2 linked regions of the Homo sapiens genome follow. The protein of the gene in region 1 purifies or fractionates together with the protein of each later gene. This does not show direct contact. Each region holds a gene or a part of one and is shown on either strand. Other genes may lie near its edges.

Region 1 (3,657 bases):
GGCATGCTAAAAAGTGTGGACTTCTAACTATAATGAGAAGCCCTTGTAGGTTTTTAAACAAGTGTATGACATTATCACTTCTGTGTTTTAGACCAATAATCCTAATGGTTGTGTGGGGTCTATACTTTTAATGAGAAGAGAGAAGATTAGGAAGGAAAGGTGATCATGTTTGCATTACCATCTTTGAAGCAGAGTGGTAGCAGTGGAAAGGGAAAGGAGGAGAAACTAATGACATGGTTCAGGTGTAGAGTCAAGTGCAACTTACAGGACGTGAGGGGTGAGGGAGGTGGAGGCACTGGAGTCTGCTAGTGCAAGTGGTTGGTAGACAGTTACCACTGTTCACTCAATAGCACGTACTGGGTGTCTACTACCAAAGTCACCAACGTAGAAATGGTTAAGAGGTAGCTCTTGTTATTCAGTTCGTATCTTAAAATCTAATTCTTTGACCTCTTCATCCTTGGTTTCTTGCATCCTTGCTGACCTCTGTGTCTCCTCTGTCTTTTCTCAATAACGTTAATTTCCCCCTTCCCTTTTTTTGGTTGATGGTAGTGTTGAAGATCTCACGTTATGCTGAGATCTTGAACTCTTCACATCTTTACACTGGATCTGATTAGAAGAATGGAGTTTTGAAACATTTTTTAATACAGAAGATTTATGATCAAAAAGAAAAGTCAGGTAATAGTAGGTATTTGATAATTCAGCAAATAACCCAACCATTTGTGTCAATTTATCTCATTAGTAGACACTATCTCCCCAGGCATATCATTCAGATCATATGCCACTGGTCAATATTTCGTGCGCAGTATACCATTCCTCCTTAATCACAGGTGTAACTATTTACCAGTTTGACATTTACAAATCCATCTATAAGCAAATAACCACACAAAGCCAGCAGACAGGGCATGTAAGAGGCCAATAAACTGAAGGCAAGACAGCAACGGCAACTATGGCAAAGGGATGAACTGTGCCAGCACAATTACGGTATACAATGACCAATAAAAATGTGCTTGTATAAAATAACTGCTTTATGAAATTTGCACAGAATACACAAGTAAGGCAGAACAATCATACTGAAAATAAAGTTGCAAGGCCAAATAGCCTATTATATTCTTTTCAACTTTATTTAGAGGGCTGCACAGTTTTCTTTTTTTCTCAAGTAATTACTAGCTATTCACAACTCAATCGACCAAATGAGCTGTGCCACTAAATATAAAAACGACGTATAAAGAATAGGGCGAATCTGCACAGCAATTAGGGATAGAAAGATGTACTGATACAGTTTTTGGTAATACAGTTGTGACTATTAATCCATTCTAAATTCTGTATCATTATAAACACAGTTTCCTGAGTTGTATAACAAGGTCTTTGTACACTGCTTGAGTTATAATCAGGCTGAGATATTAAAACAAATTCCATTAATGCTAAACCCTGCAATTATTTAGCACATGAAGCAGTTCTGTGGTTCTTTGTTCTGTCTTTATTCCCAATCTAGGTGCCACTGTTTCCTCTTACCAAAAGGATCAATTATATCTCAAATACAGGAAGACCTCACACTTTGAATTCAATGATAATGTATATAGGAAGGCGCTAATTCTATAAGGCAGAAATCTACACAAAAATAATTCTAAACTCTTTAACCATGCAATTTGATTGTACAGAGAACTGCTTGTGATTTGATGCTTGAAAAAGGTAATGTCCACCATTTATGATGTTACTCCTGGTTCTAGAGTTGAATTTAGTCTTATTTAGTCAGACCTGTGTACAGATCTGACCTAAAATGAAGTCACTCAGATGATAAAAGACAGGTGCTATTCAGGCTGTTAAACAATCCTCAAAGCCACTCCCTTTATTCCTCCTCTTTTTACCCTGAATCACTGTCATTTTAGCTCTAAGCAGACAATTCTGTTCCTAGGCCTTCCAATTTTAAGGCCTACTTTCCACTGTAAAAAATAAAAAAAAAAAGGTCAAATTTATTCTTTTCACTATTACTTAATAGTGGCAATTCTAGTGAATGCAATAAATACTGGAAAGAAGACAAAATTATTATTTATAGATTTCAATGTTATTGAAAACCTAAAAACCTCAAGAGAATTATTTGAAAAATTATTACACCTATTAAGGGAAGAAAGTAAAACTAAAATAAATAAACAATAAATATACTGAATAAAACAGAGCAGTAACATGTTTCTGAGCAGTAAAATAATGCTGCAAAGATAATGAGTCTTTCCAATAGGCCATACATTTAATATTTTAATCAAACTCTTAGTGGGTCCTGTTTTTGGACTTAACAAAACGTTTCTGATGCTCATCTTGAAGACTTTGTTATACTGGCCAAAGAAAATTTAGAAATCACATAGAATAAATAAAAACAATATATGATATATTTATTGTAAAGCTACAGTAATTAAAAAATGTAGCAATGACATAGGAAGAAACAGATGATCTGTTAAATACATGCAGGAACCCATTGTCTAACAGGTAGTGAGTCACTTCCTGGTGGCAATGAACCAAACAGACAAGGTCCTTATTCTCCAGCACCTTACAGATAACAAAATGGAAAAAAATTAAAAGCTCAGAAATAGATATATATATCCAAGAATTAATTTTTATTTATTGACTGATTGAGACAGTCTCACTCTGTCGCCTATGCTGGAGTGCAGTGGCGTGATTTTGGCTCACTTAACCTCTGCTTCTGGGTTCAAGCAATTCTCGTACCTCAGTTTCCTGAGTAGCTGGGACTACAGGCATGCGCCACCACGGCCAGCTCATTTTTTCTATTTTAGTAGAGACGGGGTTTCACTGTGTTGGCCAGGCTGGTCTCAAACTCCTGGCCTCAAATGATCTGCCCGCCTCAGCCTCCCAAAGTGCTGAGATTACAGGCATGAGTCACCACACCCAGCCCCAAGAATTTATTATGATATACATGGTATTTGAAATCCTTGGTGAAAGGATGGATTTAATAAATGGTTCTGGGATAACATATTAATTCTTTGAAATAAAAATAGATCTCGCCTTCAAGCTAAAAACAAAAAATAAATACTAGATTGGGAAAAAAAAGGTGAATTATGTATATATTTTGAGGTGAAGAGCACCTTCATTTACTAACGACAGACACATAAATAAAAACTAATAATAAATGGGGGAAAAAAGATTAGACCATCATAAAAATGTGCCAAAACCCAAAAATTCAGCCTTACAAACATACAAACATACATACATATATACATGTACAGATTCTAGTGTTGGTCAGGCTATAGGAAACTGACATACTCATATAATGCCACTGGATTACAAACTGGCACAACTTTTTGGAGGTTAATCTGGTAGAATATATTAAGGCTCAAAAATGTGCAAATCCCACCAGCATTTCTACTTCCAGGTGTGGGAACTGAATCACTGTGACCGTGGTCCTCAAACTTTAATGTGCATCATAATCACCTTGGGTTTATTAACTCACAGATGGGAGTACTTTCAGAGACTCTGATCCACTGGGTCTGAGGCAGGGCTTGAGAATCTGCCTTTTAACAAATTCTCTAGGGATGCAGAAGCTGCTGGAGCTGGGACCACACTGTGAGTACCACTGCAACAGGAGCATGGCAGATTACTGAAAGCAACAGTGAGAGGTGGCCTTTTCCCTCCTTTGGTAGTGGCAGGAGA
Region 2 (3,657 bases), on another chromosome or scaffold:
CTCCTCATCTTGCACTACAAAGTCATCGATAATATAATCATCTCCATCTTCATCAGATTCATAATTATCCTCTTCTTCCTCCTCATCAACTTCATCACTGCTTGGGCAAGATTCCTTTTCAGAGTCCTAATTAAATTAAAATAAATGCTTCAGTAAATGGTGCTATTAAAACGGTAAGCATCGATATAAAATTAAAACATTAAATCTGACAGCAAAAAAATGATCCATAGTAATTAACTTCATATTTTAAAGTTAAAAATAAATAATTTTGTCATATTAAATGCTGAACTTTTGAAATTATTAAGAAGAATATACCTTGGTTAAGTGATGTAAAATGTTTAAAATGGACATTAGAATTATAAGAAGTTAAAAACAAGAAAGATCATATAAAATAACAAATAGTCTTTCAATTTTAAAAAAGGATGGACTGAGGCTCATGATAAAACAGTATATTACGTACAATAGTGTAATCAAACATGTTCAAGAATACTTGATTAAAAAATAAATTCTAGAATTATTGAGAAATGGAACGGACTCAGCACTTTTTTATAAAAATTAAATACTTTAAGAAAAAAACTGAAAAACAATAACAAATCCAACAAAATATAACACACCTCAAAATCTCTACCACTACTGCGTCTCTGACGAGATCTTTGTTTTGAGAGTTCTTTGAGCTTCTGAAGTTTTTCTCGCTTTTGTGCAGCTAATGTTTTTTCAGGAGTCTTTTGCTCCATTTCCACTGAAGAACCTTCATCTTCAACCACTCTACGGGGACGTTTAACACCTACTTTTCTAACTAGGATATCGCTGTCATCACTCTCATCACTGTCACACATCACAGAGGATAGCCTTTTTCTTTTTCCTCGCTTGATGTCTTCTTCTTCTAAATCATCCTCTATTATTTGTCCAGTTTGTTTGTTGAGATCATTATCCTCTTGACTTAAATGTTTTTCCTGATCATCCTCTATTATTTGTCCAGTTTGTTTGTTGAGATCATTATCCTCTTGACTTAAATGTTTTTCCTGATCTTGTAAGTCAATATTCCTATGTTTGATTTTGTTCGTTTCTTCTTCATATGTTGAACCGTTGCCAGAGTTAATGAGACACTTACTGTCATTTCCTTCACTTTGAATTTTACTTAAGTTGAGCTCTCTTTCACTTCCTGGTGTTTTATTACAATCAGGTCCCTTGTTACTATCAAGCTCTTCATCATTTTCAAAACTTTCATCACTATCAAGCTCTTCATCACTATCAAATTCTTCACTATCAAGCTCTTCATCACTATCAAGTAATTGTGAGATACTACTTCTTTTAGTTCGCCTCCAATCAACTCGAGATTTCTGCTCAGGCACGTGACTCTTAGAATTTCTCCTTGTTTCATGTCTTCTAACATGTATCATTTTCACTTAAGCTTCTATAAAATAAAGTTGTTAGGAATATAACAGTGATAACCAGATTAGAGCAATGAATGCATTTATGGTATAAATTATATTTATTTGGCTTTATTTAATGGTCCACAAACACAAAATCACATGAAATATCTGAGTGAAGATGGTAGAACATTAATTTAACAAATAATTTACTGAATGCCCATGAAATAATTATATGAACATCTACTCTGAATTACGTTGTATGTTGTGCTGCAAGGGATACATAGAAAAATCATGGTGCTGTCCTTCAGAAGATTATTATCTATATGTAGAACTAAAATATCTAAAACATATAATAATTAAGAAAATTTCAAGGTAATATTTAGTATCAAATGAATAACATAAATAACTGCAAGAGAAGTGGAAAGATGCAGGGAGATCAGTAAGGCAAGTGCTTCACTTTATCTTGAACAGATGTGATCTAATAGCATTCTGAAGGATTCATTGTATTTGAACAGAAAGAACGAAAGAAAAAGGGATGTCAGGCAAGTAATATGGTAAGGGCAAACTCTGGCTTTAAGAAAGAAGATGGTATGTTCAGTAAATAAGCATGGCTTAAAATGTATAAAAAAGAGTTTTATGCTGGAAAAAAGGAGAAAAGAATAGAAAACTGAATGGGATTACCAGGATGACTCACCCTGTAGGCAAAGGATTCTGAATAGAGAAATGATATAAAGTATAAAAGATCAATTTACACGAAGAAAGTTATAAAGTAACAAATGACATAAAGAAGACAGCAGTGAAAAATTGAGAGATAATATATCCACTAAGATTGTAGCCTCTTTATACCTTAGTAAAATGGGAGTGGCTTTCCCCTCAAAGTTAAATACACAATATAACCAATAGAAAACTTAACTAACAATCCAATAATGTAGTTAAGTGAATAAAACAAGTAAGTTCCACGGCAAAGCAGAGCATAGTATTGGGAAGGAAAACAAAAGCTGTCAGTTTATCATTTAGAAAAGAATGAATTCCATTAAAATTATCACAAGTATATATTAAAAGAACAATTAGTGACACGTAAGATAACTAGAAAAAATAACATATGTAGTTCTGTGGTTGTTAGGGAATAGAAATATGACAATGTAATGAGACCGACCTCAAACTACATGTTAGAGGTATATATTGAACTGACAGCTATCCCCACCAAAGAAATCACCTTATGAGGCTGATTATTCCAATATTTCCACCACAGCACAGAATATTCCTGGAGTCTTTCTATAAACCACACACTATAAAAAATCTAAAAATATGAAAATAATCACACTTCATTTTTTATCCCAAACAGTGACTTTAACACCCACTTCATTCACTTGTCTCGGTTATAAGGACCTGTTAGCAGCTTGCAGAAATGAAATCCAACTTAAGAAGATGAGAATTAACTACCATTAAAAATCTTCAAAAAATGTGCTGCGAATTCTGAAGGTAATTACAAAAATTCAATGCCAAAAATTTTTTGAGCAATGGGAATCTTACCGGACTATGTTTCCAGCTTTCCAAGAGGATTACTTTTTTCCTATAGATTGTGGAAGAGAGGATACAGCTCATTTAATTGTACAAATTCTGGTATGTTTATACGGCAATAAGACTTTCTGTATAATGGTTAACACCTCATGTAAAATCAGAACGGGGGCTGCCAAAATTATACAGCAGAAATTATAGCGTGTAGGATGAAATATAACTTTTATTTTTTTAAGAGATAGGTCTTGTCCTGTTGTCCAGGCTGGAGTGCAGTGGCATGATCATAGATTACTACAGCCTTGAACTCCTGGGGCTCAAGCGATATGTTTCGATTTTTAAATTTTTTGTAGAGATGGAGGTCTCACTATGTCCTGATCTCCTGACCTCAAGTGATCCTCCCACCTTGGCCTCAGTGCTGGGATTACAGGCATGAGCCATTGCCCAAAGTATAACCTTATGTCAGTAATTGCTATAAAATATAATCAGCATTGTAATAGCAATCTAACAAATTCTGGTCAACAGGGCAGTCTGCTATTTGAAATTACCCTTGGGTTGCATCTTACAAAAGGCTTATATTAAAATCAGCAAAGATGAAAATTGTGTGTAGTCAAAATTACCCTTTAAAAAAATCTCTATATTAAAGTATGGTTTTGTGTACACTATACTGCGTTACAATACGTCCACCCAGTTTCTCCTCCAGGTTTTAAGCAGCTTACTGTTTCTTTGGTTTAGCACCACACGAACTAGGCATCTTACATTTTTAAGC

The links. Proteins that work in one complex are often made in the same cells at the same time.
Region 2: the proteins of NETO2 (region 1) and CCDC82 purify together in Homo sapiens (affinity purification with mass spectrometry; one large-scale study listed by BioGRID and IntAct). This does not show direct contact.

Annotation. Positions count from the first base shown.
Region 1 is NC_000016.10:47,133,805-47,137,461, forward strand, and holds part of NETO2 (neuropilin and tolloid-like protein 2 isoform 1 precursor), read right to left. Parts: intron 432-3,657; exon of another isoform or gene 266-431; intron 1-265. UniProt on the Homo sapiens protein: Accessory subunit of neuronal kainate-sensitive glutamate receptors, GRIK2 and GRIK3.
Region 2 is NC_000011.10:96,383,348-96,387,004, forward strand, and holds part of CCDC82 (coiled-coil domain-containing protein 82), read right to left. Parts: exon of another isoform or gene 2,947-3,657; 5' UTR 2,907-2,946; exon of another isoform or gene 2,590-2,906; intron 1,415-2,589; 5' UTR 1,401-1,414; coding exon 615-1,400; intron 127-614; coding exon 1-126.